Linked DNA regions of Homo sapiens: all the other regions are linked to region 3. Evidence: fine-mapped expression QTL. A gene starts in region 3. Each other region holds a variant in brackets. All regions are shown on one strand. Distances are from middle to middle.

Region 1 (8,106 bases), 48 kb before region 3:
GTCTCGCTCTGTCACACAGGCTGAAGTGCAATGGCGTGATCTTGGCTCACTGCAACCTCCGCCTCCCGGGTTCAAGTGATTCTCCTGCCTCAGCCTCCTGAGTAGCTGGGATTACAGGCGCACGCCACCATGCCCGGCTAATTTTTATATTTTTAGTAGAGACGGGGTTTCACCATGTTAGTCAGGCTGGTCTCGAACTCCTGACCTCGTGATCCGTCCACCTCAGCCTCCCAAAGTGCTGGGATTACAGGCGTGAGCCATTGTGCCTGGCTTTTTTTTTTTTTTTTTTTTTTTTTTTTTGTATTTTTTAGTAGATACAGGGTTTCGCCGTGTTGGCCAGGCTGGTCTCTAACTCCTGACCTCAGGTGATCCCTACATCTTGGCCTCCCAAATTGCTGAGATTGCAGGCGTAAGCCACCGCGCCTGGCCTCTTGTCACTTTTTATTACAAATAAGAAGCTTAAACGTTCTCTATATTGCTGTGGCAAGTACTACAAGAGTCTTAGGCAGCAGATCGTGAAGAACTGTTTGAGAAATGTTTTAGGGTTTTGCTTTTCTCTGATTAGAACCATCTCCAAACGGTGTTGGAACTGGAGTTCCTGAGTAAGATGCTTTCAGACAAAATATACAATGTCTTTCTCTAGAGATCCACTCCTAGGCTTTTTGTTCCTTTCTTTCCCACTGTAGAACATTGCAAAAACAAGCTGCTGAGCCCTCAGCTGGGTGCTTGGGTGTCCCTGAGTTTAAAATGGAATGGAATATAGGTTTCTGTTTTTGCTTCCGTTGTTATGGCATGGGTAACGTAACTTGACTTTGTCTTTAAAAATTTCACAAAAGAAATCAACATTATTTACTAAATCACTTTTTAAACGTGTTTTAAAAGTGCTGCTTTTGGGTTGAAGGGTGTGCTCCCGAAGACCACGCTGAGTTAAGAGGCTAATAGGAATCGTGTGAGTGAGGCAGAGTGGGATGAGGGCCGTTCCAGAGACAGATGTGCCCTGGGAGACCAGGAGGAAAGCAGGCAGGTTGAGCTGTCCTGTTGGTTGTTAGCAGGACAGAACCAGGAGGATGCGGAAGCATTGGTAGCTGAGATGCACGGCACAGACCCAATGGGGTCCTCTCTCTTTCTTTTGTTTTTTGAGACAGAGTCTCACTCCGTCACCCAGGCTGGAGTGGAATAGCGTGATCTCGGCCACTGCAACGTCTGCCTGCCGGGTTCAAGCGATGCTGCTGCCTCAGCCTCCCAAGTAGCTGGGATTACAGGCACCTGCCACCATGCTGGTTAATTTTTTTTGTATTTTTAGTAGAGATGGGGTTTCACCATGTTGGCCAAGCTGGTCTCGAACTCCTGACCTCAGGTGATCCACCACCTCGGCCTCCCAAAGTGCTGGGATTACAGGTGTGAGCCACCATGGCTAGCTTTTTTTTTTTTTTTTTTTAATAGAGACAGGGTCTTCCTGTGTTGCCCAGGCTGGTCTTGAACTCCTGGGCTCAAGGGATCCTTCCGACTTGACCTCCCAAAGAGTTAGGATTACAGGTGTGAGCCACCACGCCCAGCCCAGCGGGGGCCTCTCTTTTGAGTCAAAGGCGGTTTGGAGGTCTAGCACAGCCCTGCTTTGCTCTGGACATGATTCAATGAAAGAAGATAAAAAGTAACACCTGGTAATAGTAAAATAGTAACAAATGGTATTTATTAAATACCTACTGTGTTCTAGGCACTGTGCTAGGAGATTCACATGCTTTATGTCATGTAAGCCTATGATGTGGGTTACTATTATTAGTCCCACTTTACAGGTAGGGAAACAGCCACAGGGAGGTTAAGTTGTCCATTACCCAACTAGGAAGTGGCCCCATGAGCAGAGGACTCAAGCTTCTAGTGTACTCAGCCACTGGAGGATGATCCTTTTGTGCTGAGATTCAGTTTACGAGTTCTATTATGGGGGAAGTTGGGGGCTTCCTGGTCTCAATCTATCTAAGGCCAGCTTGTCCAGCCCATGGGCTGTCTGCGGCCCAGGACAGCTTTGAATGTGGCCCAACACAAATTTGTTAACTTTCTTTAAATGTCATGAGACTTTTTTGTGTGATTTTATTTATTTATTTTAGTTCATCAGCTATTGTTAATATATTTTATGTGTGGTCCAAGACAATTCTTCTTTTTCCAGTATGGCCCAGGGAAGCCAAAAGATCGGACACCCCTGATCTAAGAAGAAGGAGGAAAGGACTGGCTGGATCAATGGGAGAGGGAGAAGAGATAAGGCTCAATTAGTGAGCAGGGATCTGTGCAAAGGAATCAGGACATAGGCACAGCAGCACCACAGGGTGACAGGTGTTAATGTGGGGGCTGAGGGGAGGGAGCAAGAGTACCTTTCAGTGGGTGTGTGTTCAGGGAGAAATGAAGAGAGTTGGGGCTGTTGCAGAGTTGAATTGGGAGCTCTGGGAGCAAGTGTACCAGTCAGTATTATAGGAAGGCAGCCATGTTAAGACACAGGACCTGCAGGGTGGCCAATTTGTTTTAAAGTATATGACAATAACACTCCACAGTTTTAACAGTTTGTTGGGCTAAATTGTGTTCCTCCTACTGCTACTGCCCCCCGCATTCATATGCTGAAGTCCTTACCCCCAGTACCTCAGAATGTGACCTTATTTGGAAATATGGTCATTGCACATGTAATTAGTTAAGATGAGTTCATACTGGAGTAGGGTGGTCCCTGATCCATTAGGCCAGGTGCAGTGGCTCCTGCCTATAATCCTAGAACTTTGGGAGGCTGGGGTAGGAGGATCGATTGGGCCTAGGAGTTTGAGACCAGCCTGGGCAACATAGTGAGACACTATCTCTACAGAGAATACAAAATTTTTAACAAACTAGCCAGGTGCAGTGTCATATGCCTGTGGCCCCAGCTTAACTCAGGAGGCTGAGGTAGGAGGATTGCTTGAGCCAGGGAGGTCAAGGCTACAGTGAGCTATGATTGCACCACTATACCCCAGCCTGGGTAACAGAATGAGACCCCATCTCAAAAATAAAAATAAAAACTAAAGAAGGAAATTTGGGCACAGATATGCACACAGGGAGAATGGCATGTGAAGATGAAGGCAGAGATCAGGGTGCTTCTTCTACAAGCCAAGGAACCCCATAGATTGCTGGCAACCACCAGCAGCTCAGGGAGATGCCTGGAACAGATTCTCACTCACAGCCCTCAGAGGGAACCCATCCTGCTGACATCCGGATCTCGGCCGTCCAGCCTCCAGAACTGTGAGACAATGCTTTACTGTTGTTTAAGCTGCCTAGTCTGTAGTACTTTGTTACTTTGCTCTAGCAAAGTAATACACATGGCAACGTATCTGATGACAGCTCTAGCTGTGATAGAGCCCTGAGGTTTTTGAAACCTGCCTTTGTAGAGGCTGAGAAAATCTGTTTTCTTTCATTTTCCTTTTCTTTTTTTTTTTTTTTTGGTTTCTTTTTTTGAGACAGGGTCTTACTCTGTTGCAAAGACTGGAGTGCAGCAGCGTGATCATGACTTATTGCTGCCTCTACCTCCCAGGTTTCTCAGTAGCTGGGGCTGCAGACACACACCACCTGCCTGGCTAATTTTTTAAATTTTTTTTAGAGATGAGGTCTCACTATGTTGTCCAGGCTGGTCTTGAACTCTTGGGCTCAAGTTATCTGCCCACCTTGGTCTCCCAAATTGTTGGGATTACAGGTGTGAGCCACCATGCCTGGTCAGGACTTGTTTTATATAAAATTATCTCTAACAGAATGCTACATGTACATAGCTATAAAAAGCAAAGTAGAATAAATACATAAAAAGTATAATGAAAAATTACAATTGCGCTTAGCCTCTTGTTCCCCAAGGCTGTCTTCCTGAAGGCCGGCACTGCCAACTCTGTAGCCATTTTTCTTGTATTTTCCACCATTTTTCTAAACAATATGCTTACATTACTATTTCTTTTCTTTCCTTTTTTTTTTTTTTTTTTTTTGAGATGGAGTCTCACTCTGTTGCCCAGACTGGAGTACAGTGGGGTGACCTCAGCTCACTGCAGCCTCTGCCTCCCAGGTTCAAGCAATTCTCCTGCCTCAGCCTCCCAAGTAGCTGGGATCACAAGTGTGCGCCACTATACTTAGCTAATTTTTGTATTTTTAGTAGAGATGGGGTTCCACCATGTTGGCCAGGCTGGTCTCGAACTCCTGACCTCAGGTGATCTGCTTGCCTCAGCCTCCCAAAGTGCTGGAATTACAGGTGTGCTGGAATTACAGGTGTGAGCCACCACGTCCAGCCACATTACTGTTTCTTGATTTTCGACTTTGCACACTACTTGTTAACTTCCAATCATGGTAGCGGAGGAAACGCTCTCCTTCCTATACCCCCTTCTGTATCCTTGTATTCCAGTACTTTATGAAATAAATGACAACTGTTCACATTATTAGGAGGAGGTATGTAGTGTTAGGAGGGGGCATGGCTCACCTCTGAGCCATGTAGTGTTCTAGGACAACACTCTGTGATTAAACAACCCTTTTCTCCTTCTGGACTTAATGGCAGTTTCTTTTTTGCATTTGTCTGATTTTCTCTGAACCTATGTGTTCCCCCATTGCCCTAGCACCTCTGCCACACTGCAATCAACAGTATTTTTTGACTCTGAATGCTTTATTTTTTTTTCCCTAGGTGGTCCCTCTGGCCTCCTCCTCCAACGTGGACAGAGGTGCCTTAGGCTGCAGCGTGGCCCAGCTCCTGAGAGGGAGGAGGAGGTGTCTTTTGAAAGTGGCCAGCAGTTTTCTGGGTTTGGAGGTGGATGTTTCAGTTCACTGTGGGGGTGAAGTCCTTTGGTTTCATGAAGGCCTCCGGGACAGGCAGCTGTGCTCTCTTGTTGTTCCCCTCTGAGGGGCTTCACAGTTCTGGCTTGGGCGTGTTAATCAGGCATTCAGGCTGAGGCAGTCCTGAGTCCAGGGGAGATGTTGTCTGAAGGTGTGAACGGCTGAGCTCACTCCTGTGGAAACTGAT[G/T]TTTTTGTCAGTGGTTGTTTTTTTGGCAGGGTGTGGGAGTTGTTGCTGAAAGTTGCTTGCAGGAGATAACGGAGTGGCTGAGGGTGGAAGGTGCATTTTCTCCATCCGTGCACAGAATCAGCACTGCTGGGTCACGCAGGGTGTAGGGATCTAGAGCACCAACGGAGCCCCGGACCTGGAGCCTGGCAGCCCCATGGGCACTGTGTCTTAGAGGTAGTGGCCCCAAGGCTCGTATTGGTGGACCTCAAGCCACAGAAGACAGGCCAGAGGAAGGATACAATGATGACTGGGACTGATTGGTTCAACAGATGTCGGGGACCCTTTTGAGGACTCCCTGAAAGACCCAGGGAATACTTCTGCAGGGCTGGGGCTGAGGGCCTGCGCTCATCAGGGGCCTCAGAATCGTTGTGACATGGGGTATCCGTGCAAAGGGATCTCACGTCTCCCCAGACTGCTGGACACTGGGTGTATGAGCATATTCCCTTCAGAATGATTCACAGCGATAGGCAGGGTATTTTTACCCCCATTGACAGCCAAAGAGTCTGAATCTCAAAGAGGCTTCAGTCCTTAAGTGGCAGAAGTGGAATGAGACCCCAGGTCAGGTGCTTTCCCACTTCCACAGAAGATAGAAGTCACGTTGCTAGAAAGTAACAGGGGAAGTAACGGTCCCATTGGACCATTTAGGGTCCTAGGAATGAAATATTTATTATGTTCAGTTCTGGGAATCGCGTTTTAAGAGAAGCAAGAACTTACTTCCTACAGGGAAATCAGGTTCGTGAAAGAGACCGGGGGTGCCTTTTCTGGCTTTTGTAACATCAGAGGGTCCTCCCCAGTCAGTGTTAGCAGCCCTGGGAAGCAGAGTTCTCTAGGGCTTCCAGACTCGACCCCAGTGTTGTCACCGGGCACCATGGTATGCTCAGTGCCATGGGCAAGCGTGGCTGTCATCTGCCCAGGGCCGTCGCCTGTGTAGCTAACGTCCTCTGTAGACAAGCACCCCTCTGTTGCAGCCTCATAAGCAAGGTGATTGTAGATGTCATGCCTGACTAGTTCACCCTTCTCAGGAAGTGAACTTCCTTTTTACTCAGTTTCACAAATATGGGGGTTCATGCAGTCTCCCCTCCCATCCCAGCCAGCTGCCCTGACAGTGGGATAAGGCGCTGACAAGCGGCCGTGTTCCCTCTGCGAACAGGGACAATGTCCCCATGAGTGCTCCCTTCCCAGCTCTGGGGCTAGAGTGTGAAAGGCAGGGTAGCGCTTTAGTGACTGGGGGGCTGTTGATCTCAGACACCAGCTGCTGTGATTCCTAGGACACTTCTTATCAGTGGGACACGAATGGGGGACTCCCACGTTCTGGTCTCTCCAGTCAGGTTGAATTTGTTGTTTTGTTTTTATTTTTGTTTTGAGACAGAGTCTGGCTCTGTCGCCCAGGCTGGAGAGCAGTGGCGTGATCTTGGCTCACTGTAACCTCTGCCTCCCAGATTCAAGCGAGTCTCCTGCCTCAGCCTTCTGAATAGCCGGGATCACAGGCACACGCCGCCACACCTGGCTAATTTTTGTATTTTTAATAGAGACGGGGTTTCACCATGTTGGCCAGGCTGGTCTTGAACTCCTGACCTCAGGTGATCCGCCTGCCTCGGCCTCCCAAAGTGCTGGGATTACAGGCGTGAGCCATTGCGCCCAGCCGAATTTGTTGTTTTTTAACAGGAAAATCCTTACTGAAGTTTCAAGATTCCCATTCTAATGATTTTTAAATCTCTATTGAATTCAATGAATTCAAATCTCTCTCTCTTTTTTTTTTTTTTTTTTTTTTTTTTTTGTGAGACAGAGTCTCGCTCTGTCGCCCAGACTGGAGTGCAATGGCATGATCTTGGCTCACTGTAACCTCTGCCTCCTGGGTTCAAGCGATTCTCCTGCCTCAGCCTCCTGAGTAGCTGGGATTATTGGCACATGCCACTACGCCTGCCTAATTTTTGTATTTTTAGTAGACACAGGGTTTCACCATGTTGGTCAGGCTGGTTTCGAACTCCTGACCACACGATCCGCCCACCTCGGCCTTTCAAAGTGCTGGGATTACAGGCGTGAGCCACCATGCCCGGCCTCTAATCTGTTTATGTTTACAGATTTGTTTTTGCCTCACTCACAGCTACTATTTGTATTTTTACTGAGCTTCTTTGGACAAGGTTAAGGAGCTTCTTTTCCTGACTTCTGTTGATTTTTGGTGCTCCGTGTTTGGAGTTCATAATTACACAACCTCAGGGGTTTTCTGGGGTTAGGGGAAAACAGCAGCTTGAAGGCTCAGGAAGTGGCTGGAGTTCTGGAAATAGAGTCCAGAACATAGACTTAGAAAACCCTGATGAACCTGTGTGACCTGGTCCTCCAAGGACTGAGCAATGTTGCCTCTCCTGGCTCTGGAAACACAGCACACGGGGGCTTCCAGAGTGAGCAGGAAGTTGCTGGCCATACCTTCCCAAGCCCCAGAGATGCATTCAGGCTATTTGAGGATTGTCATTAAGGCTTAGAGAAAATTGTTGAAGCTATTCCTGATTTGTACCAGTTAGTTTAGATTCAGCTGCAACAATCACAACTTAAGCAAGATATATAAAATTGTTTCTCATGTACATAGTTGAGGTCTATTATGTCAGCGTCCCCATTATTCAGACTCTTTCCAGTTTTCTGACTGCATTCCCTAGGCTGTGTCTCATCCTTATGGTCCAAATTGACTGCTGGAGCTCCAGCCATCACATCTGACTTCTAGGCAGCAGGACAGAGGAAAAGGAGAAGAAAGGCCTATGTTCTTCCTAGAAGAACCATACTATATTTTTGCTTACATCTCTTTGGCTAGAATTTAAAATGGCCAGTCCAAATTGAAGAGAGGCTGGGAAATTTAGTCCTTTGGCAGCAAGCAGTGTTACTCAGAATAAATTTGGGGTTTGTTACTAAGTGGGAGAAGGCGCATTGGTATTGGGTTAGGTTAAGCAGCCAGCAGTCTATCAGAGAAAGCTGGATTTAGTAGCTGTGAAATAAACAGGTTATTGGGGTTTGCAGTTCACTTAGGCTCTCTTTGTAACCCTGGGCAGGTCATTTTACTTTCTTCAGCTTCAAAATTTTCATTA
Region 2 (8,106 bases), 29 kb after region 3:
ATGGACTTTGAGGAACCTATAATGACAAATTATCTTTTGAAGGGATCCAACATGTGAATAGGTTAAAAATCCTTCTTACACTTTATGTACTTTACATATTGCCCTGACTTGTATGTTTCGAAATAGAATGGTCCAGTGCTTGCTGTTGACCTTTCCTGGCAACTCAGCGTCACCTATTTTGCTATTGATGGATACTTCTGATTTGTAATTGTGTTGGATTTCTTTTTTTTTTTTTTGAAACGGAGTCTCACTCTCGCCCAGGCTGGAGTGCAGTGGGATGATCTCAGCTCACACTGTAACCTCCGCCTCCCGGGATCAAGTGATTCTCACGCCTCAGCCTCCCAAGTAGCTGGAATTAAAAGTGTGTCCCACCACGGCCAGCTAACTTTTGTATTTTTAGTAGAGTTGGGTTTTGCCTTGTCGCCCAGGCTGGTCTTGAACTGCTGGCCTCAAGCAATCCATCCTCCTTGGCCTCCCAGAGTGCTAGGATTCCAGGTGTGGGCCACCACTTCTGGCCATGTATTAAAATTCTTTGAGGTCTCTGGGTCATATATAAATTTCCACGTAGGATGTTGTTACCAGTTATGTCAAGATTTTTGTGGTTCAGACCCCTACTGTAACTCGTCTTTCATCAAGAATGAAAAAGCATACTAAGGATATTAAGTTCTCCTTAGAATGTTGCCTTAGTTTCTGTTCCAGCAGAGAGGCCTTTAATATGAATGCTTTCTCTTGGCTTGGCTTGGTTTGGAATGTGTTTATTCCCCTTAGATGCAGGCACTGAAGACTATTTATGAGATGAGAAAGGTTAGTAGGAAAACTAGATCTACTTGATTTGCCTTAGTTGACTCTTGTCCATTGTAGTTGATTCATCACTAAGTGTCCTAGATATATGTTTTTGCTATTATCTTTTATCCCAAGGTATGATCTTTTATTCCTGTATATATTCAATCTTCTGTAGGTTTCATTAGGCCCTAGAAAATATAGCTTTCCCTTCTGTACTTGCAATGGGAAATAAAACTGTCTGCTGGATTGGAGAGTTTCAGATGCTTATTCATTCATCTTTTAAAGATCCTATTTATTTCATTTATAATCCATTTGTCTTCTTCTTTTACTGACATTCCAAATGTCAGATTAAGATAGGGACATTTAGGAACTACATGAAAGGAAAAGTAAATGGGCATAATATATACATTTGTGATGAATGAAGACCTTTTTTCCTGTACAAGAGGATTATAGTTGCCTGAACCTAAATAATCAGGAATACTGTGTCCTTTTTCATTGAAAAAGGTATGGACATTTCAGAATAAATTCTTGAAAGAAAAAAATAATCAGTTCTGTACTTTCCCCCTCACATTCATTTTCTATCCCTTTATATTTGCAAAATTTATATTTAAACGGGCTCCAAGATGGTAGCCCAAGCGAATGTCTCCCTGATGTTCTTGGCATTCCTGCTTTGTGTCAATCAGTAAATATTGTGTGAGAATCCACTATGTAATCAGCTTTAGGTAGATCTGTGGGCAATGGGAAATTCTGAATTAAATATTACCCATGTCTTTAAGGAGCTTAAAGTCCAACGAAGCTTTCATAGAAAGTCACTTCCTATGAAAATTTGGTGTCGCACTAGCCATGATGCTAGAGTTTTAGATCAATAGTTCCTCAGTGCCATTTCTCTGCTGAGATTGCTGCAAAAGAATCACCTGGGGAACTTGTTAAGAACAGAGGTTATTGTGGCCGGGCACGGTGGCTCACGCCTGTAATCCCAGCACTTTGGGAGGCCGAGGTGGGTGTATCACCTGAGGTCAAGAGTTCGAAACCAGCCTGGCCAACATGGTGAAACCCCATCTGTACTAAAAATACAAAAAATTAGCTGGGTGTGGTGGCTCATGCCTGTAATCCTTAGCTACTCAGGAGGCTGAGGCAGGAGAATTGCTTGAACCTGGGAGGCGGAGGTTGCATTGAGCTGAGATTGTGCCATTGCACTCCAGCCTGGGCAACAAGAGTGGAACTCGTCTCAAAAAAAAAAAAAAAAAAAGAACAGAGATTATTGGGCCACACTCATTAACTTTCCCTGTAGAGCAAAGGTGGGGCTCAGGAATGTGTTTTTCTTTTTAAAAATAAACAATGTACACTGCTGATTTCAGAAGGTATAGAGAAGGTTCTATGGTGAAAAGCAATTCTCCTCTTCTCCATTCTATATCCATTCAGTTTTCTTTTCCCAGAGGCAACTGCTGTTACCAATTTCTTACATGCCCTTCCAGACATATACCTTGCATTTACAAACATAGGGATGAGGGGATCGCATACAAACTGTTACGCACCTGGCTTTTGTTGCTTTACAGCAAGCGTATCTTGGAGATCTTTCCATATTCCTACTTACAGAGCTGCATCATTCTTTTGAAAGGCTGCCGTGTAGAAGCTTATAGAAGCTTGTAGGGGATTCTAATGCATAGCCAGGTTTGGGAGCCACAGATAGACTGAGTGTTAAAGGGATTTAGAAAGTTTTTAGTGTGTTAATTCCTTATGTCTTGCATTTCATGAGGAACTGGACTCAGTAAACATTTCATTGTACTTCTAGGTACTAACAAGTTTTTGTATAATGTTTCTTCTTGTAGAATTCATCAGTCAAAAATAGTGACAGTAGTAGGGTGTATATATTTCTTTATTGATGAGACCCTGTGTGGTGGTCAAAGCTGCTAGAAACAGGAAGGTTTTCCCATTTTCCATCTCTGGGCTCAAGGTGCTTAGTGCTGTTTCACCTTTCCTTAGTGTTAAGGGAGGTGGGAATGGATAGAGAAGAAGACAGAAAGCAGGTAGTAAATTACACCATAAAACTTGCTCTGCCAAAGGAATCATTTTTCTCTACGCGACTTTCACTCTAATACCTATATTTAAGAGAGGCATATAAATATTCACATGTGTTGTAGAACTTCACATACATACTGTTATGTATATACACACTTCAGATATATATTACAGATAGCATACTTCTTGCCTTTGTTAACTTAAAAACATTGCCAAGCAAACCTTTATGAAATTGATACTATTTATCATCATGGCAAGTTTTTTCTTCCCTAAGATGATTTACAAAGTTCTTACCAAATTCTCACATCATATTCATTTTGGGATGATATTTATTTGCTGTATCACAGTTTATAAATAAAAGAATAGTCTTTATCTCCACAAAAATAGCAGATATACTGGGCACTGTTTGTATCCTAATTTCTTTAGTCTGTGTAGACATTCCTCATACCCAGCCAGGTAGGCAGAAAGTAGGCTGAGGAATAAGAGAGTATTAACTTGAGAATTTCACTGTCCTTTTCACCACAGGACAGTGAAAAGTAAATATAGTTAGCTTCTTGAATATTTCAGAAATGTAAAGCACCTCCTCCTTCTTTAGAACATTCTAATAAAAATTATTACCTTCATGAAATAATGATTTGTGCTTATTTGTAAGGATGCATTCACCATTTGCATTGCCAGTTACTCTGTGTCCAAGATGTCAGGCAGTAAAGAGCAAAATAACAAGCATTTATGTACTTGAAGCAAATAATGTATCACCATACAAATCATATTGATGTGCATATTTCACATATTCATTGTGGGACAGATTTAATTAGAAGCTTGTCAACAGGATTTTTAGCTTTTTGGGGAGTATGTTTTGTACCACTGAGTGCACATCTTGGCTCTTCAACCTAATTTTCCTCTCATGTTGTTTGATCAGTTCCTTTTTATACTGTCTTTCTCCCTTCACCCTTATTATCATAGATTCTTTTAATCAGCTGGTTGGAAATAACTCTGGAAGCCCTGGGACAGTTGGAAGCATGAGCCCTGCTGTTGGAGGTAGGAAAAGTGAACCATAAGTGAACCTTAAGAGATGATTGTGAACCAAAGGAATTTGGTTCAGAGTATGCATTTACTTCAGACCCCTTAAGCATATAGTATGCCACTAAACAGCTTTAATGTGTCAATTATATAATCTTCACAAAAGTGGAAACATACCATATTCAATTTATGAAGAAACCATTTAATTTTGTGAAAACAGTTTTATGTCAGCAAGAAAATAATAGAAGTTGGGTTTTTCTGAGCCACAAATTTAATCATACATTACCAGTTTGATTTTTCACTGGAAATAATTCATACAAATTATAAATTTTTACCTTAGCTGATATCTGGTAATAAAGTGATCTGTCTCAGGGTTAAAACATTGTATAAAAC[G/T]ATTAACAATTTAAAAGTGAAAATGCCTATTGGCATCCTAGTATTTTTAGTAAGAATGTCAACTTATTAAGCCAATTAATAAGCCTTATTTTTACTGGCTAGCAACGTAAGATTTTTGGACAACAAAACCATTGTTCTACAGTTTCATTCTAAGCATTTTATGTATATTAATTTTCTTAAAAATCCTTTGAGGGGGTTACTGTTACTATTTCCCATCTTTACAGATGAGACCAAAAAACAAAAAACAAAACAAAACAAAACAAAAAACAGGTAAAGTAAGTTACCCGAAGTCATACAGCTTACTAAGCGGGGTAGCTGGGATTCTAACACAGGCAGACTGACTCGAGAGAGAGAGATTTTTCTCAACTCCACCATCTAAAATTAATTAAAAATAGAAAACAAATTCTCTCTTTTTTTTTTTTTTCTTGAAGCATAGCCATTTGAGTGCCTGGTGTGTGCTCTGAAGAGACCTTATTGAAGAAAAAAATACTAAGCCCAATCATAAAAGCCTAGTTCCTATTTGGGCTCAAACCTCGTAGCTAATACGCTGTTGATTAGGGCAGTGTTGGCTGACTGGAACCTGGTAGAGACATGATAATAATATTAATAGCTGCTGTTTATGACTTAGTATGTTTACTGTGCCATTGCTTACTATAGGCTTAGTCCCATGCTTTACATACTGACATACATTGTCCTGCTTAATCTCAGGGGAACGCCTGCTCCTCAGGCAGATTGAGAAACCTGCTCCAAGTCAAAACAAGTAGAGCTGGAAATCAAATCAAGTCTTTCTAATTCTACAATCTATGCATCCCATTGAAGCCAGTTGATATGTGTTTATCCGGTGTCATGGAGGTAGTAGACTGAGGATACCTTGCCTCTCCTATAGCTGTCTCTAGACCTAAACTGACCCCAGAATCAAGATAGGAAAGGAAACATGCAGAGCAAGCTGTCAGCTATCCTCTGTATTCCCGGAGTTAATTTACCTCAAAGGCCACTCCCCATCCTCCTTTGTTAGTGTGGGACTTTAGGGGTACACAATGACTCAGTCCTCTGATTATGTCACATGTCACAGTGAAGAAAATGAGTAGTTGGGTGCTTTGGATGAGAAGGTGAATTTCTGATACACAGGTGAAAACTTGAAGCAAAATTTCCGATATATAAATCTCATTACCACAGCCTTCTACTGTCTAAGGAAAGATGAAAGTTGTACTTTACATGTTGAAAGAGCTTTCCGTTTTTACCAGCTGTTAAGAATTTTAAGAAAATTCTTTAAAAAATTCAAACCGAATAGAATTTTAAAAAATTTTGCCACAATATATTAGTTTTCAAGTAAGTTTGCAGCACAGTTAATAGTCAACAAAAATTTACTGTGATCATCTTGTACTTGGTATTGAGAGAGAAATCTTAAAGAGCTCAGTTCAGGGAATAGGATATAAAAATTGCTCAGTATTAAACAATGTTAGGCCATAAGTCAGTGGAAATGTGTTTTTTTTTTTCCTACCCTTTTGGTAGGAAATGTGTATCAGTAAAATGTTGAAGGACTTTCTGTGGTGTGATCAAGTAAAGTATCATCAAGGAGGAGGAATTTGGGGCTTTGAAGACTAGGTAGTGTAAGATCATTCAGTGAAGAATGGGGAGAGTATCTGAAGCAAGAGGAATATCTAATGAAGTCCACGGACAGTAAGATCTGAAAGAATTTGGCCACCCACTCTTCTAACACCAAGAGTAGAGAATATAAATGAGAGTGTTATCCGAGAGGAAAAAAGAGAACGTTTGGCTGATCCTAGGGAATTTCGGTTAGTCATTAATTCAATTCAGTTCTCATCAAGTGTCAGAAAAAAATGCCAGCTAAGCAACAATTTCAGAAGATTAAGACAATGGAAAGTGCTAAAGTTGTCACTGCCCCACTCACCAAATGGCAGTGAGGCTGTTCTATAGATGGAAGCTATTCAGCAAAGGTCAGATTGTCACCCTGTAGGAAAACACCTCCCTTGTGCCCTCACACACAAAGTGGTCTAATAAGCTAAACATTTTGCTTTTAGGAAAAAGTGTCACAGTCTATATATGAAGGAAAGTTTTACAAGAGAAGTGAGTGGAAGAGACTAAAGAAGGTTATGTGCCAGGTTTGAAAGTGATCCTTAGAAAATTTGCTTTCAGAGTTGTGCTCTTTGTGTGTCCTACTGCATTTCCTCTTAACATATCTGTTATAGCTATCATGATTCTAGCAATTTTTTAGTAGGGAGGCAGTGAGTGAAGGATGGAGTGGGTGATAAAGAGAGTAGGGAGAAGTTATGCCTCCCTCTGAGAGAGAAACGGAAGTGTAGGCAGTAGTTCCTTTTGGTTCCTTTCAAAGACCTGAGATAATTCTTGGTTTAGGAATGTTAACTTTTTGTGTTTAATTTTATTTTTTAAAATTGTATTTTGTATGGTTAATTTAAATGGACTGTTTTTCAGATGTACTAGTTTACCAGATTTCATGTTTTTATTGATATATCAAATTTACTGTTGTGTTGTGTTGAATTTCAAAATAAATGGAGCTATGAATGTTTTACCAGTTGATTAGAACTGGCCCAAACCTGAAGCCTTCACTGACATTTCATAAAACAGATTATATGGGGTGAGGTGGGATGACAAGTAGACACTAGAGAGAGGAACTCATACATCATTGAAGATTAATAGTCATGTTCAGCCCAAGGTGTTCTTAACTAATTGAAATGTCCCTTTCTCCCCTTTTTTCCCTAACCCTCATGGGAGTCATTCTGATTTATGTATCTTAGATGTCATGGAGAGTTTATGATATGCTGGTTTAGGTTTTTCAGGACACATCTAAACATTTTTTTTCTCTAATTCTTTTGGTGTCACAGTCACTTCTTAGGAGTGAGGAATGTGGCCATGGTCAAGGTGAGACAAGACAAACTAGGGGTTTCTATAGAAAAAGTGCCAACTTGGCATCTGTTAACATTGAGTTTCTGTTTTGGTGGGAGTATAGTACCTATTTCTTTTGACACTTAATGAACCTTGCATTTAAAATCAGGGAAGTTTGGTTTTGAACTTGTTTTATTGAATGCAGAGATAGCTCTCATGCATCTTTTCACTTATCTGCAGTGATCTTTTTGTTGCCCTTTAGCCACACACTGTTTCCACACTTGGATCTTATCACTGTTATAGATGATGCTACCTCGGAAATGTCAGATTCTGAACATTCTACTCTTTGGGCATAATCTCGCCTCCTTATAGGTCAGTTGCTCAAGGCCTTCCACGGACTCAGTGCTGGGAGCCATTAAGACCCCTCAGATCATCTCACCATTTTCTCACTACCTTCCGTCTTCACATCTTTTTTGACCACTTACATTTCACGGGTCATCCTTTAATTCCCTTGTAAATATCAGGAACTCCTTTTCTGGTCTTTACCTACAAAAACCCCAACTCTGGATGAATCCAATTTCCTGCTCTGGGTCTGCACCACATGGGTGAACATTGTTGAAAAAAAATCACATAAATACATAGGAATGGTTTTGTATTAGGCTGTTTAAATGGTTTTGTAGTAGGCTGTTTTTGCATCATTATAAAGAAATACCTGAGGCTGAGTCACTTATAGAGAAGAGGTTTAATTGACTCATGGTTCTATGGCTGTACAGGAAGCGTGGTGCCAGCATCTGCTCCTGGTGAGGCCTCAGGAAGCTTTCAATCATGGCAGAAGGCGAAGGGGGAGTAGGTGCTCTCATGGTGAGAAGAGGTACAAGGGAGTGGGAGGGAGGTGCTATACATTTTTAAACCAGATCTCATGAGAACTCACTGACCATCCCTAGGACAGCACAAGACATTCCTGAGGGATCTGCCCCTATGACCCAAACAATTCACACCGGGCTCCACCTCCAACATTGTGGATTA
Region 3 (8,106 bases):
TTGAAACTATGAAACTATTCCACTGCTTATCAAACTTTCAATTTATGTATTTCTTTACACTGGTATAGCTTCCTATATTATTCAGTGGGTTATAATACATGATTTTTTTTAAATGTTGAAGTACAATTTGTCCCTGATTTGGCTGGTGTCCTTTAGACATGCCTCATTATTCTTTGAGCACGTCCTTATATTCTGGTACTACAAGAAGTTCCAGGCTCATCCCGTACCCTCTTCTCCAGTCCTGGAATCAACTATTTTGCCAAGAAGAAAAATGAAGTGGAGAATGGTATTTAGAAGCCAAGACCTGGGCTAGCTGTTCTCATTGTTTTGTGGTGTCACTACTCCCAGATCCTCTCAATGGACAGGGTATGTACATATACACCTATATCTATTTCTACAAATAGTGATAGATTGATACCTCCATTACTAGCCCACCACCAAAGTTTCCTCTTATTTGTAATTCTCTTCCTGAACATTGAGAAACCTGGCTCCCATTTTCCTTAACTCATTGCCAGTCACGTGTCGCATAATGACATTTCCGTCAATGATGGACTGCATATTATGATGGTGCCCCATAATATTATGATGTGATATTTTTACTCTCCCTTTTCTATATTTAGAAACACAATTTCTTACCATTGTGTTCTAAATCCCTATGGAATTCAGCACAGTAACATGCTATACAGGTGTATAGCCTAGGAGTGATGGGCTACATCATCTAGCCTAGGTGTGTAGTTAGCTATACCAAACACGGTTGTAAGTACACTCTATGGTGTTCACACAACGATGAAATTGCCTAACGATGCATTTCTCAGACTTACCTCTGTTGTTAAGCAACACGACTGTATTTTTTTTTTTTTTTTTTTTTTGAGATGGAGTCTTGCTCTGTAGCCCAGGCTGGAGTGCAGTGGCGCGATCTTGGCTCACTGCAATCTCTGCCTCCCGGGTTTGAGCGATTCTCCTGCTTCAGCCTCCCGAGTAGCTGGGAATACAGGTGCGTGCCACCACAACCAGCTAATTTTTTGTATTTTTAGAAGGGACAGGGTTTCACCATGTTAGCCAGGATGGTCTCAATCTCCTGACTTCATGATCCACCCGCCTGGGCCTCCCAAAGTGCTGGGATTACAGGCATGAGCCACCACGTCTGGCCAACACGACTGCGTTTGATCAGTTCTCTTGTACACAACTGTATCAGTTTGTTCTTTCGTTGCTATAAAGAAATATCTGGGCTGGGTGCGGTGGCTCACACCTGTAATCTCAACACTTTGGGAGGCTGAGGCAGGTGGATCACCTGAGGTCAGGAAATCGAGACCAGCCTGGCCACTACTAAAAATGCAAAAATTTGCTGGCTGTGGTGGTGCACGTCTGTAATCCCAGATACTTGGGAGGCTGAGGCAAAAGAATTCCTTGAACCCAGAGGGCGGAGGTTGCAGTGAGCCAAGATCATGCCACTATACTCCAGCCTGGGCAACAAAGTGAGACTGTGTCTCAAAAAAAAAAAAAAAAAAAAAAGAAAAATAAATAAAAATAAATAAATAAATAAATAAATAAATAAATATCTGAGGCATACAACTGTAATCCCAGCACTTTGGGAGGCTGAGGCAGGTGGATCACCTGAGGTCAGGAGTTCAAGACCAGCCTGAGTAACATGGTGAAACCCTTCTGTACTACAATTACAAAAATTAGCCGGGCATGGTGGCAGGTACCTGTAACCCCAGCTACTCAGGAGGCTGAGGCCTAAGAATTGCTTGAACCCGGGAGGTGGAGGTTGCAGTGAGCTGAGATCGCACCACTGCACTCCAGCCTGAGCGACAGACCCAGACTTCATCTCAAAAAAAAAAAAGAGAAAAATATCTGAGACTGTGTAATTTGTAAAGGAAAGAAGTTTAATTGGCTCATGGAAGGCAGGCTGTACAGGAAGCATGATGCTGGCATCTGCTCAGCTTCTGGGGAGGCCTCGGGAAACTTACAATCATGGCTGAAGACAAATTGCATCATATAGCCGGGGCAGGAGCAAAAGAGAGAGGGAGGAGGTGCCACATATTTTTCAATGACCAGATTTCTTAAGAACTCACTCATTACCACGGGGACAATACAAAGTGGATGGTACTAAACCATTCATAAGAAATCCACCCCCATGATCCAGTCACCTCCCACCAGTCCCCACCTCCAACATTGGGGATTACAATTCAACATGAGATTTGGGTGGGGACACAGATCCAAGTCATATGGATAACCAATCTCTCATTGTTGCTGCTGCCTCCTGCTCTGCTGGGCTTCCTTCTTCATACCCCTGCCTAGTCCCTCCATGTTAACATAGCAAGTCCAGGTGGCCCCCAGAGGACATCCCACAACAGGCTGCTTTGGTGCTCTTTAGCCAGACTCCAACAAGACAGCTTTGCATGCCTTCTCTTCACTGCTGTATTGTCTCGACAACACACACCTTCAACAAAGTACATTTAAAAATACATTGTCTTTTTGCTCCATGTAAAACCTCTGTGAGATAATTAAGGCATTACTAGCCATATTTTTTCTTTCAACAGATCATCAGTGATCTAGTTCAGGAGAAATGGAGTGACTGGCCCGAGGTCACAGATTATAGAAAGCAGGACCTGAGTGCATGGGTCTTTCCACTCCAGCAATATGTGATGCCTATGCCAAAATTACAGTACCTTTTTTTCTCCAGTAGAAATATGTTTCAAGCTTAATCAGTGTGTGGTCAACTAATTTCCAGCCTTTCCTTTTCCCGCTATATATATGCCAAACAGTGATGTGATAGAAAAACGAATAGTTGCAGAATTGAGACACTTAAAAACTTCAGTTACAGCTCTAATATATGAGACTTCAGTCAAGTTACTAGCTTTCCTCAACTATAAAAAGGAGATTAGGCAGGACTTGGTGGCTCACGCCTGTAATCCCAGCACTTTGAGAGGCCGAGGCGGGCGGATCACTTGAGGTCAGGAGTTCAAACAGCCTGGCCAACATGGTGAAACCCCGTCTCTATTAAAAATACAAAATTACCCGGGTGCGGTGGCGTGCGCCTGTAATCCCAGCTACTTGGGAGGCTGAGGCAGGAGGATCCCTCGAACCCGGGAGGTGGAAGTTGCAATGAGCCGAGATCACAGCACTGCACTGCACTCCAGCGCGGGCAACAAGAACGAAACTCCGTTTCAAAGAAAGAAAGGAAAGAAAGGAAAGGAAAGGAAAGGAAAGGGAGGGAGGGAAGGAAGGAAGGAAGGAAGGAAGGAAGGAAGGAAGGAAGGAAGGAAAGAAAGGAAAGAAAGAAAGAAATGGAGAATTAGATCAGCGACTCTTTGCCTGGGGGTGGGTGACAGAACAACACTTCTTCCTCCCCTAACAAAAATTACCTATGGAGCTGTGAGGGCTTTCCCCACTGATAGAAATGCCAGCAGAAATTCAGCTACAAATACTCAATCCAATAATCCTTAACATCACTTCCAATCCACAGTTATGATTCCAACGCAATCTTTTCTATACAGTATTTGTCAGCTGTTTTTATTCTTCAGTTTATCATCTTATATTTGGCTCTCAATTTCACCCATAAATTATTGATGGCTTATTATACGCCAAGTACCCTGCGCTCCGCTTTTTGTGGTATCCCTCTTCGGAGCGAGAAGTCACTTAGAATTTTACCCCATCTTCCCCACTTGGGAATCGGAAGGGTTCATAGCTAAGTTTTGTTATTTATAAGCACGCCGGCTCTTCTCTATCCCTCTCTCCACCAACCCCATTTCAAGGTTGGTCCCTCCCAGCGGACGACAGTGATGAATTCCTCTTGGGGACAGCCCTCCCGCAACTAACGGTGGCTCCATCGACGCTCTGGTCTCCTTGCTGCTCGCTGGGAATTCGGGTGGGACGTTTTCCAAAGTTTGGATTCCACGGCACATTCCTCCCTCGGAAAGGCACAACCGGCTCGGCGTGTCAGCTCAGCTGGACTCACGCCGGTGCGGGGCCGCAGCTCCGGTTCTCGCTGGGCGGCTGCGGAGGGCTGGGCGATTCTCTCAGCGTCGCGAGGCGACCCGGGCAGCAGCAAACTTCTCCGCTTCCCCTCTTCGGGACGCGGCACCTCTTCTGCCCTTGAGCACTCCGCAGGAACTTCCCCCGGCCTCGGCTCTCGCTCCGAAATAACCGAGCCAGCTCCTCGCACGCTCCCGCCGTCCTCCTCCGGCTGCGGCCGCGCGCCCGCCGCCACCGCCACCACCGCGCGTGTCCTCACGGGGCCTCAGCTCCCTCCGCCCCCGCAGCCGCCTGCGTGCCCTTCAACAGCTCCCTCCGCCCGGCCGTCGCGGAGAGGAGCGGGGAGCGCGCGCCGGCGCCAGAGACGTGCGCGAGACGCACGGCCCCGCGCCGAGCGCCGGAAGCAGCCGAGTCTGGGCCTCGCGCGTCGCGCGCGCCTCCTCCCCCTCCGCCAGCCGCCGCGGCCTCGCGCGCGCGCACTGAGGCGCCGCCGCCGCCGCGGCTGCTGCAGGAGGCGGCGCTGGCTGGCGGCTGCGCTCGCTCCAGTCGGCGAGCGGAGTAGCGAGCGAGCGTGTGTGTGTTTTTTAAAGATGGCCGGAGCGGCGGCGGCGGTGGCCGCGGGAGCAGCAGCTGGAGCCGCCGCGGCAGCCGTGTCGGTGGCGGCTCCCGGCCGGGCCTCGGCGCCTCCGCCGCCCCCGCCCGTGTACTGTGTGTGCCGGCAGCCGTACGACGTGAACCGCTTCATGATCGAGTGCGATATCTGCAAGGACTGGTTCCACGGCAGGTAAATAAACCCCCTCCAGCCCCGCAGCCGCCACCGCCGGCCACCGACCAACCGCCGCCGCCGCCGGCCGCCCGCGCCTCCCTCGGGCCGGGCCGCCGCGCCGCGCCCAGCTTTCAGGGGGCCCCGGTGCCTAGCCCCCCGGCCGGGCAGTGGGGCGCGCGGTGCCCCGGGTTCGCCGGGCGGGCTCCAGAGGGGAGCCGGTGGGCTCGCCTGGCCCGGGCGAAGAGTCGCCACAACAAACACGAACAAAGAGGGCCGGCGGATAAGTTGGCAGGGGGAGCCTGGGGCGAGGGGACGCGGCCGGGCGGGCGCGGCGGGGGCGTCGGGCGGAGCGCCGGCCGGGTCCGCAGCCCCTCGCCAGCCCGGGCCGCCGCCGCCCCGCCCCGCCCCGCCGCGCCCGGGGCTCCGGCCGGAGTCGCCGGCCGCCCCGCCGCTCTGCCCGGCCGGCCGACGCGCCTGCCTTCCTTCCGGGCGGCGATGGGGTCGCCCCGGCCCCGCGTCTCCTCCGCGCCGCGGGTCCCTGTCGCGCCCCCTTCCCCGTCTTTATCAAACTTCCTGGGCCAGTGGGACGGGGGCAGCGGCGGGCCGGAGAGGCGACCGCGCCAGCCAGCTCGGCGGGGCTCCGCGGAGTAAACAGAGCAACAGATGAGGCACTCGCTCTCGGGGACTTGAAAGGTGCCGGGGAAGTTGGGGCCGGGCCCCCGGCGGGCGGCAGGTTGACCCGGGTCGCGGTCCTGGGCCCCCGCACACACCCGGGTCGCCGGGACTGGGGCAGATGGAGTGGGTTGCGGCGGCCCGAAGGGAACGCTTCTCCGGACCCCCTGCGTTGCCCTCGCGCCGCGGCTTAAACTTTACAAAGAGTGCAGTTGCCATCGCTCGAAGCTGGCGACACCGGGACCGCCTGCGGCTGTGCCCGGGCGCCGGTGCCGGCGAACTTGAGTCGGCCGGGCGGACGCTGCGGGGCCGGCTGGCGGCGGCGGCGGACGCTGCCCTCTGATTCAGCCGCCGCCGCGCTCCGGGTTTGACGTTTGAGAGCTCGGGCCGCCTCCGCAGCCAGGCCGCCGACTCGTGTGTTTTGTAATCAAAGTGTGAGGCTAATAAAGGGCGGCGCCACAGCCTCTTGACTCCGGCGTGGGAGGGATTCACAGGCATTTAAACAAAGAAACTAGTTGGGGTTGGGCTCCCAAAGTCCTTATTTGGGTGTTGTGGCAAAGCCTGCGGTCACCTTTAGTTGAAGCCGGTTTCCCGGGCCCCGTTTGGTGTTGTCTCTTGGCGAGAGCACGCTCACGAGTAATAGCAGATATGGTGACTGTGATTGTAGGAAGTGTCTTTTGATTGACAGCAGGACATTTAAATACAGCCTCCGCTCCCCCCCTCCCCAATTTTACAGAAACACTACAAGACCAGGCCAGATGTCTTAGTCTCCCTCTACTGGTCCAGGGAGAGAAAACCATGTAAATCACAATGTTCTTTGCAGTGTTTAGTGCTAGGTGTAGTTAAGTTTTACTTAATTTTCAAGTACAGTTTTACTTAATCAGTTTTCAGGCTAGCCGATTCTCACAACAGAAAACAAGACACAGTAAATTATCACTTTAAAAGAAAGGCAGCGTCCTCGTTTCGTATAATCTTTAGCAGTCTTGTATATCCAATTCTATTTCCACATCCTGTTTCCATAACATATTCTACGCAACTAGAATAAAGATTATCCGAACATTTAGGTTCTATATAGAATAAAATCAGAATCCCTGGTGATTATGTAAATGCTTATTTTTTTTCAAAGAACTATTTTTTGAAATTTGAGGCGGTTTAAACTGCATAAAAATTTGTCTCGCCAGGCTTGGTGGCTCACGCCTGTAATCCCAGCACTTTGGGAGGCTGAGGCGGGTGGATCACGAGGTAAAGAGATCGAGACCATCCTGGCTAACATGGTGAAACCCCAACATGGTGAAACCCCGTCTCTACTAAAAATACAAAAATTAGCTGGGCGTGGTGGTGCATGTCTGTAACCCTAGCTACTTGGGAGGCTGAGGCAGGAGAATCTTTTGAACCCGGGAAGCGGAGGTTGCAGTGAGCCGAGATCGCGCCACTGCACTCCAGCCTGGCGACAGAGTGAGACTCCGTCTCAAAAAAAAAGAAAAAAGAAACTTGTCTCATTATGCAATGCGGATTTGATAGGCTACCAAATTTTAGACTAGAATTGTATTTATCTTAATTTAGGTCACTTAACACTATAACCATGAAAAGCCCCAGGTATTTGATGGAGAATTTTGTAATACATGTAAGTATACACTTGTAAATAGGGAAATAGGAAATACAGAGGGCTTACGGGAAGGAGGGAGAGCAAGGCCAAAACAAATATGCCCTCTCTGCTTTGACACATAAATTTGTGTAACTTTATATCTGTGGAAGTGAGTCTAAAATAGGTTTTTTTGAGCCCAGGGTCTTTTTGACCATCAATCCTTGAAACTTATGTGGTTCAGATGTCAAAAGTTAGAAAATTTAGCTATATTGTCCTGCCCTACAAAAGCAGTATCTTTTTATTAAGTTTAATTCTTTTTCTTTTTCTTTTTTTTTTTTTTGGAGACGGAGTCTCGCTCTGTCACCCAGGCTGGAGTGCAGTGGCGCCATCTCTGCTCACTGCAAACTCCGCCTCCCGGGTTCAAGTGATTCTTCTGCCTCAGCCTCCCGAGTAGCTGGGATTACAGGTGCCCGTCACCACGCCTGGCTAATTTTTGTATTTTTAGTAGGAACGGGATTTCACCATGTTGGCTACACTGGTTTCGAACTCTTGACCTCAGGTTATCCGCCCACCTCGGCCTCCCAAAGTGCTGGGATTACAGGTGTGAGCCACCCTGCCCGGCCTAGTAAGTTTAATTCTTAAGTATTGGTAATTTGGACTCTGTATGTTTTTCCCGTGGTATTTACTCTGATGTTTACTGTACCATAAAATGAGTGATCGTTTTTCGGAACACAGCAAAATGTTCCTTTATATTAACTATTAAACAAATATCATTTGCTTCCATGAGAATTGACCCCTAAAGGACTAAGATGTATCTTTACCATGCTTAGATTTCATTGGACCAGAGGTGGTCCATCTGTAGAGGAGCAAGGAGGAGTAGGAGGTTGGATACAGAGAATTGCCATTGCCTGGGTAATTTCTTGTTAACTTTATTTCTTTAAGTAGAAGGACTTTTTAAACTGAGGAATCAGTGCATTTTGATATATATAAATTTTAGTTTATTCTGCCTGGCGTTTCTGACATAAGGAAATCTGAAAAGTTGTTGCCCTAATTTCTTGTGACAGGGAAGGAAGACCTGTCCTTGATGCTTTTCTGTCAGGCTGCA
Region 4 (8,106 bases), 60 kb before region 3:
AAATGGAGACTGCACACATGCACACATCTACATACATGCACACACACATGCATGCACACCATACACGTACATACATGTGCACCCACAGGCGCACACATACCATACACATGTGCACACATGCCACATGCATGTACACACGAACCATGTACATGCACACATACCAAACACACACGTGCACATACAAGCCCTCATCTAGGCTGAGATTTAAAAGCCCTGCAGTTGGCTGAGCGCGGTGGCTCACGCCTGTAATCCCAGCACTTTGGGAGGCCAAGGTGGGCGGATCTCCTGAGATCGGGAGTTTGAGATCAGACTGACCAACACGGTGAGGGTCAGCCCATCCAGAGCGCAATGGTTATTAGCCTAGGTGTAACCGAAACCCTGTCTCTACTAGTAGACAGGTTTAGTAGAAACCCTGTCTCTACTAAAAATACAAAATTAGCTGGGCATGGTGGCGGGTGCCTGTAATCCCAGCCACTTGGGAGGCTGAGGCAGGAGCATTGCTTGAACCCGGGAGGTGGAGGCTGCAGTGAGCCGAGATCACACCATTGCACTCCAGCCTGGGCAACAAGAGGGAAACTCTGTCTCTAAATAAATAAATTAATTAAATAAATAAAAATAAAAGCCCTGCGCTGACTCCATTCCTCAGTAGTGATGATTCCCCAAAACACTACAGTTCACCCTCCATAAAAGGGGTTGTCCAAGCTTGGAGCTCTCTGGGTCTGGGGTTTCCCCTCAGTAAAGTGAGGAATGTGGACAAGGAAACTTCTAGGACCTCTTCCTGTGCTCCCACATCCTCTGGCCCTAAGGGCTGTTTTCAGCTCCCCACCCCCATATCCCAAAGGATCAAAGGAATGGAAACTTAAGGAATTGGACCTTAAGGCTGTGGTGTCTGGGCTGGAGTGGACGGTGCTTTGCCACACACCTCTGGCATATCATCCTACAGCAGTGTTTCTCTTTTAAAAGAAAAAATTATTGCGGTGGCTCAGGCCTGTCATCCCAGCATTTTAGTACAGCGAGGCAGGTGGATCACCTGAGGTCAGGCATTCAAGACCAGCCTGGCCAACATGGTGAAACCCCATCCCTACTAAAAATACAAAAATCAGCCGGGTGTGGTGGTGGGCGCCTGTAATCCCAGCTACTTGGGAGGCTGAGGCAGGAGAATTGCTTGAACCCGGGAGGCAGAGGTTGCAGTGAGCTGAAGATCATGCCATTGCACTCCAGCCTGGGCAACAGAGCGAGACTCCGTCTCAAAAAAAAAAAAATTATTATGGACCCCAAGCTGACGAAATCTTTAATATTACCCAAATATATGTGCATATTAAGACCTTGGTATGCAAAGTTTAACAATACAACACCTCGTATTGTTAGGTAGTCTATCATCAGAAAAGTCAAGCAGAAAGGAAGAGAGAAGTCAGGGTGTCACTCTGGGCCCCCAACTTCAGGAGTGTTTCCATCAAGGGCTGCATTTCCCCCCTTGACAAACCCACCATAGCTCTGGCTTTGCTGGGTGATCCCTGGGTGCAGGGAAGCCCGACCCCTCCTTCTGTCCCCATTCATAGAATCCTGGACTGGCTAGGGGCCTAGAGAGATCACTAAGCACTGCTGAAATGCAGAAGACCAACTTCTAGACACAGGCACCCCGCCCCCTCCTTCTCTCCCTCCAGCCTAGGGGTGGCAGTCACTTACTGCTGTTGTAAACCTCTGGGCTGCCTCACCCTCTACTTTTTGGATCTTTGGTTTATTTGTCCTGGGTCCTAGGAAGGAGGTGAGGCAGCACTTCCTAAGGACGGGGAGTGCAGATGGCATAGGCAAGATGCCCGCAGAGGCTGATCCAGGCATGTGCTCAGCACAGCAACTGTAAGAGGAGAGCAGGGCTGGGCCAAGGGAGAAGGTGAAATGTGATGCACTTGCCACCAAAGCCCGGCCCTCCATCCCATGACGAGTTACAAAGCCCTTCGGAGTTGTCCTGAGTGGAGGCAAGGGGCTGGGTTTTTGCACCCCACTCCCCATATCTCACCCCTACATGGTTCGGTTGAATTCAGGCTGCCCCGCAAGGAAGGAGCCACCCTTGGGCCAGGCAGCCCCCTTCAGGCAGGGCTATTCCTGGGAACAGACTGGCGGTGAGCTGTCAGCAGTTGTATCCCAAAGAAGAACCTGGGCAGAGGCTGCAGAGTCGGCCACAGCATCAAAGCCCAGCTCTGCTTACTACCTGCGTGACCTAGACCCAATTCCTCATCCTTGTTTAGCATGCAGTTCAGTTTCCCCATCTGTAAAACAGGGAGGCTGTGAAGATCAAATGAGACCATGTTCCCGTAGGGGACAAGAAGCCCGCCCCTGGCTGGCTTCCCTCTAGGGAGCTGCTGCCAATCCCTTTGGCCAGGATCCAGGACTCTGCTTCAGCCACCTGTATAAGGGGGCGGGGACCCTGTGTGATGAGGTCTGTGCCAAGGTGTGGCCTTCCCTCCCACATCCTACTCTCAGGGGGTGGATGGATCTTGCTCTTCTCACTGGCTCCTCCAGCTCTGGGGACAGAACAAGGACGGCGAACCAAGGTCCTCTTGGAGCCTGTCCTTCTGGCCTCCCTCATCCTCCCCACATGAGCACTGGCAGGTTGGGCCCAAGCATGGCCAGGGAAGGGAGAACCTCTGGATCCTGGAGTTCCGAGCCTCAGCTGTGCCATGCAGCCCAGAGCCCTGCCCCGAGTGGAGTGTCAGGCTCTGTGCCATTTGCCTTTATCCTCTGTGTGTGCCAATCCCCAGGAACCCCACAGGAAGGAAGGGGTGGAAGAGCTAGGGCAGAATTCTGGCATTCCTGGGTCCCCTAAATCCCACCTGCACTCTGAATGGTAGAAAAGATGGGAAGATATAAATAGAAAGCAGTGGGGGTGTGGGGGAAGGTCAGCAGCACCCCAGACTGCTTCAGGGCCCCTGGGGACACAAGGAAACCTGATGTGAGTTGGAAAAGGTCCCTCCTCCGGGTGGACGCACACCCATGATGTGCAGCTTAGCTCACAGATGGCGCCTTTGTGCAAACTAGAAAAAGCCCTCAGCCCTCCCTGTGTGGTTGGGGTGCAGCGCCCAACCTGAATGAAGTCTCCACGGGATGTCACAGGTCCCTTGCACTGCCAGTTTTCTCAGCACACACGAAATTGAAGGTATAGCCTTGGGTTCTGCACATTTTGTGTGGCTTATGTGCCAACTGGGACAATCTGGTTATATGCCACAGAGCCCATCTTCCCAGACGTCAAACATCTGTCCACACCTTACAGCCTTTGCTGCTGCTCTCTGCGATGACAGTCATAGAATCCTGGACTGGCCAGAGGCCTAGAGAGATCACTAAGCACCACTGAAAGGCAGGAGACCAACTTCTAGACACAGGCACCCCGGCCTGGCAGCCTTTTTACCGTGTGTGTCCAGCCAGGCTCCCTGCTGCTCTGAGCCTATGCCTGGTAACTCATGTTTTCATGGACGTGGACAACAGCACCCTGCCCATAAGATGTGTCGCTGCAGGGTGGTGTGGGTACGGCAACGATCAGAGCTGGGCGACCTCAGTCTGTGTTTAGCTAGATTTGTTGTATCCACCCAGTATTGATCCTTATGGCTTTTCTTGAAAAAGTGGATATGGCCACAATGGGCCTGCACTCCTTCCTGGTACCACATGGCTGGAGGGGAGTTGTGTCCTCTCTGGTAGCACCATAGGAGTGGCTATAACCCCAGTCTAATGGAGAAATAGTCCATTATGTACTCCAGAGGCTTCCGGCCTTCGTTTGAGTCCTATATCATTTATTGCCTGTTAGACTTTGAAAGAGCTACTGCTCTGTGCCTCAGTTTCCCCATTTGTCAAACAGGATGATGAAATAATAGCACCTACCTTACAGGATTGCTATAAACATTAAATAAATGCATATAATAGCACGTAGTACATAATCATAATCACTAAATGTCAGCTCCTATAATGACAACAGGCGAGGTCCCCATGGATAGTGTAGA[T/C]ATTTAGGTAAAACATCCACAAACATCATTTCCTTGTTTTGATGACCCTCGAATTCCCAGCAATAGATGGTAGCTGGCCTACAGAAAACTGAGTTGGGAAAGCCAAGCATTCCTGTACGAGGCCCCTACCCCGTCCCCCAGTAATAAGGCAAACTTCCAGATTGCCAGGGGTTGTGGGGGCCGCCTTGGCTCCTCGTCTTGCCCAGCTCAGAACTGTCTCTGAGGCGGGCATGCAGGGACACACTATGGACAACCAGTCATGCTCCTCGTCAGCAACTTCAAAGAACATTGCCCATATCCCAAGGCCTCTTCGTTCCTCTTCATAAGTCATTAGGGGTCTGTCAACAGCTAAGTACCCCAAGACTTTTTATTTCCAGCTTGACTCCTGCTTGGGATAATGAGTTCCATGACCCTACCGCCCACCAAGCGAAGGAACATTTTCTTTGATTATTCCTAAATATAACTCTCTCAAGCTTTAAGCAGAGCACCCCCTCCCCGGTTCTCTTTCAGGATTTAGTGAATGAGTTCAAGAGCACCCTAACCATCCATGATTAAACAGATGTTCTTCCTTCTTAGCCTTTATCTTCCCAAATGGAAGAACCCTTAACACATGACTTTGCGTTTTTACGGCAACTTCACTATTTCCTTGACGATTTGGTTGCTTCTTTTTTGAGTTTCTCATGGTCTTTCTTCAAGTGTAGTAAGCACACAGGACAGAAATCCCTCTCCAACCACAATCCCTCTCCATCTGACTAACTTTGTATATTTTTAGTAGAGATGAGGTCTTGCTATGCTGTCCAGGCTGGTCTCTCTTATGCCACATTCTACTCTGCTTGGATGAATTTCCAAGCACAAAATGAGAATTTCAGTTTAATATATGCAAATCACAGTCATTGTGTTGAAAACAACTGGAAAGAGAAGGGACTGGGAGTTGGTGAGAGAAAAGGGTAAAAGCTGTAGGCAGAGTGCTATCAGAAACATTTTTCAGAGAGGTGTGGGAACAATAAAAGCAGGTGAGGTCTTAGAACTCCAACTCTGCACTCTATCCCAGAGCCAGCACACGCAACTGGGCAGGTATCCCACCCAAAAACACCCTCCAAGAGGGAAGGCAGGGGCTGAAATTCAGCCCTCACCCACTCACTGTGCTCCTAGGTGCTGGGCTACAGCAGCCAGCAGGAGTAACCTTTTTTTCTGATTTGCACAAAGGTACTGTGTGGACCAGCAGCAGCCCTGTCCGTTCCTGCGTCGGTCACTATGGGGGCAGCTGTGTCCTACAGACAGAGAAACCCAGGTCAGAGCTAGGCACTGGGTCCTGATATGCTCTAGAATAAAGTTTTCATAGTCATTCATCCAGTGAATATTTATTGGGCATCTACCATGTGCCTGGCACTGTATTTTTGTTTTTGTTTTTTTTGAGACAGGATCTTGCTCTGTCATCCAGGCTGGAGTGCAGTGGCATGATCACGGCCCACTGCAGCCTCAATCTCATAGAATCAAGTGATCCTCCCACCTCAGCCTCCTGAGTAGCTTGGACTGCAGGCACACACCACCACACCTTTTATATTTTTAGTAGAGATGAGGTCTTGCTACGTTGCCCAGGCTGGTCTCGAACTCCTGAGCTCAAGTGATTCTCCTGCCTAGGCCTCCCAAAGTGCCAACACTGTTGTAGGTGTGGAGAAGACAGTGGTGGATAAGACAGACCTGGTTCCCGCTCTCAAAGAGCTTTGATTATAGTCAGGGGAAACAAGTTAACAAGGTCAATGTAGACATCACAAGTATCATAACGATCCAGATCAGTGGTTGGCAAACTATGATCTTTAGGCCAATCTAGCCCTTGGCCTGTTTTTGTAAGCCCCATGAGTTAAGAATAGTTTTTATATTTTTAAAAGGGTTGTTAAACAAATTCAACAAAACAACCCTTAGGAGGCACATGAAGCCTCATTATCGACTAGTCCCTTACAGAAAAAGTTTGCTGAGCCCTGGTGTAGGTAGTGACTTGCAATGGTAGGGTTATCTAGCAGACATTGCGGGTTGTCAACTTGGTTGGATTATCTAGCAGACACTGCTGGTCGTCAACCGGTTGGATTATCTAGCAGAGACTGCTGGTTGTCAACTGGTTGGATTATCTAGCAGAGACTGCTGGTTGTCAACTGCCTGGATTATCTAGTAGACACTGCTGGTTGTCAACTTCACAGAACCCATCCATATCTCCCAAATATATGGCAGCCTCGAGATTTGTATAGGATGGGGCCTTAGCTGCTTAAGCCTAATCAGGGTTCTTTTAGCAGTGACTGGGTGCTGCTCACCAGCACATTTCAGGGATGCACCATTGAGCACGTGAGATTCCGCTGGGCTAAATGATTGGTTAGGTGAAATCCAGTGTTTTTTTTGAGCATGGGAGGCAAGAAACTCTCTTCCTGGATGGGGTGGGATGTGCATGTGGGGCCAGGGATTGCTGCAGCCATTTTGCTCATGGCTGGGAGGTCAGCCTGAGGATTCAGTGACCCATGGAGGGAGTGCCCAGAGAATCACAGAAAAAAGGATCCAGGTCCCCACCATACCCTGGCTGCAGCGTGATTTTCTTTTGGACGTTTTAGTTCCCAAGCCAATAAACTCCATTCTGTGTTTACACCAGCTGGGGTTTCTTGTTTATTTGTTTTGAGACAGAGTTTCACTCTTTTTGCCCAGGCTGGAGTGCAATGGTGTGATCTTGGCTCACGGCAGCCTCCACCTCCTGGGTTCAAGCGATTCTCCTGCCTCAGCCTTCCGAGTAGCTGGGATTACAGGCACGTGCCACCACGCCCAGCTAATTTTGTATTTTTAGTAGAGACGGGGTTTCACCATGTTGGCTAGGCTGGTCTCAAACTCCTGACCTCAGGTGATCCACCTGCCTTGGCCTCCCAAAGTGCTGGGATTACAGGCATGAGCCCACTGCATCTGGCCTGTATTGTTTAATTTTTTTTTTTTTTTTTTTTTTTTGGGACGGAGTCTCGTTCTGTCGCCCAGGCGGGAATGCTGTGGCGCGATCTCCGCTCACTGCAAGCTCCGCCTTCCGGGTTCAGGCCATTCTCCTGCCTCAGCCTCCCGAGTAGCTGGGACTACAGGCGCCCGCCACTGCGCCCGGCTAATTTTTTGTATTTTTAGTAGAGACGGGGTTTCACCGTGGTCTCGATCTCCTGACCTCGTGATCCGCCCGCCTCGGCCTCCCAAAGTGCTGGGATTACAGGCGTGAGCCACCGCGCCCGGCCGTATTGTTTAATTTTTAAACTGACTTTTACTTACATAGAGCAGTAAAGTACACAAAACTTAAGGACACAGTCTGATGAATTTCAACACCACACACACAAACATATACCTCTATCATCCAGATCAAGAATGTTCCCAGCCTCCACAAGCCAAATATGTAATTAAAAATGTCCTACTAGGCATATTAACGCAATAAAAGTAGAAAGCTGGGGCGTGGTGGCTCACGCCTATAGTCCCAGCTATTAAGGAGGGTGAGGTGGGAGGACTGCTTGAGGCCAGGAGTTTGAGGCCACCCTGGGCAACATAATGAGACCCCCACCTCTAAAACAAAATTAGCCAGGGGACGGTGGGGTGTGCCTGTAGTCCTAACTGTTCAGGAGCCTGAGGTGGGAAGATTACTGGAGCCCAGGAATTCCTGGCTGTAGTGAGCTATGATTGTGTCACTGTACTTCAGCCTGGGAGACAGTGAGATGAAGAAAGAAAAGAAAGAAAAGAGAAGAGAAGGGAAGAGAAGGAAAGAGAAAGAAAGGAGGGAGGGAGGGAAGGAAGGAAGGAGAGAAAAAGCTGAAATTAATTGTAATAATCTATTTGACTTAACCCAATAGATCTAAAATACTTTAATACATAATCAATGTTGAAAGTATTAATGATTACATTTTTTTCCTTACTGAGTCTTTGAAGTCCAATGTTTGTTTGACACATACAACACATCTCAATTTGGACTAGCCAGACTTCAAGTGCTCAACGGCCCCATGTGGCTAGTGGCTAATGTACTGGACAGCTCAGGTCTAGAAAGCAAGGGCTGATAAATGAAAAGGAAGCAAATAGCATCCATTGATAGGAATACAAGTTGTGTAGGATGTAAGCCACT

The links. PIP is the estimated chance that this variant, and not a neighbour inherited with it, causes the effect.
Region 1: its variant is fine-mapped to the expression of KDM7A-DT in whole blood (INTERVAL, PIP above 0.99).
Region 2: its variant is fine-mapped to the expression of KDM7A-DT in whole blood (INTERVAL, PIP above 0.99).
Region 4: its variant is fine-mapped to the expression of KDM7A-DT in whole blood (INTERVAL, PIP above 0.99).

The regions. Positions count from the first base shown.
Region 1 is chr7:140,220,905-140,229,010 of GRCh38, reverse strand. No RefSeq gene overlaps it. Among named protein-coding and RNA genes, the nearest start is that of KDM7A-DT, 48 kb to the right of the region's middle. The variant G/T (reference allele first, on the strand shown) is at 4,994.
Region 2 is chr7:140,144,754-140,152,859 of GRCh38, reverse strand. The region is part of intron 1 of KDM7A (lysine demethylase 7A); the gene reads left to right. Among named protein-coding and RNA genes, the nearest start is that of KDM7A, 28 kb to the left of the region's middle. The variant G/T (reference allele first, on the strand shown) is at 4,216.
Region 3 is chr7:140,173,400-140,181,505 of GRCh38, reverse strand. It overlaps KDM7A-DT (KDM7A divergent transcript), which reads right to left and starts at 4,245. Exons shown (of 1, transcript NR_024451.1): 1 at 1,866-4,245. It overlaps KDM7A (lysine demethylase 7A), which reads left to right and starts at 4,523. Exons shown (of 20, transcript NM_030647.2): 1 at 4,523-4,762. The coding sequence starts at 4,569. RefSeq lists silencers at 4,115-4,544, 4,585-4,684, 5,325-5,504, 5,515-5,794 and an enhancer at 3,967-4,890.
Region 4 is chr7:140,233,321-140,241,426 of GRCh38, reverse strand. All of the region lies in intron 1 of LOC107986854 (a long non-coding RNA gene), which reads right to left. Among named protein-coding and RNA genes, the nearest start is that of KDM7A-DT, 60 kb to the right of the region's middle. The variant T/C (reference allele first, on the strand shown) is at 3,990.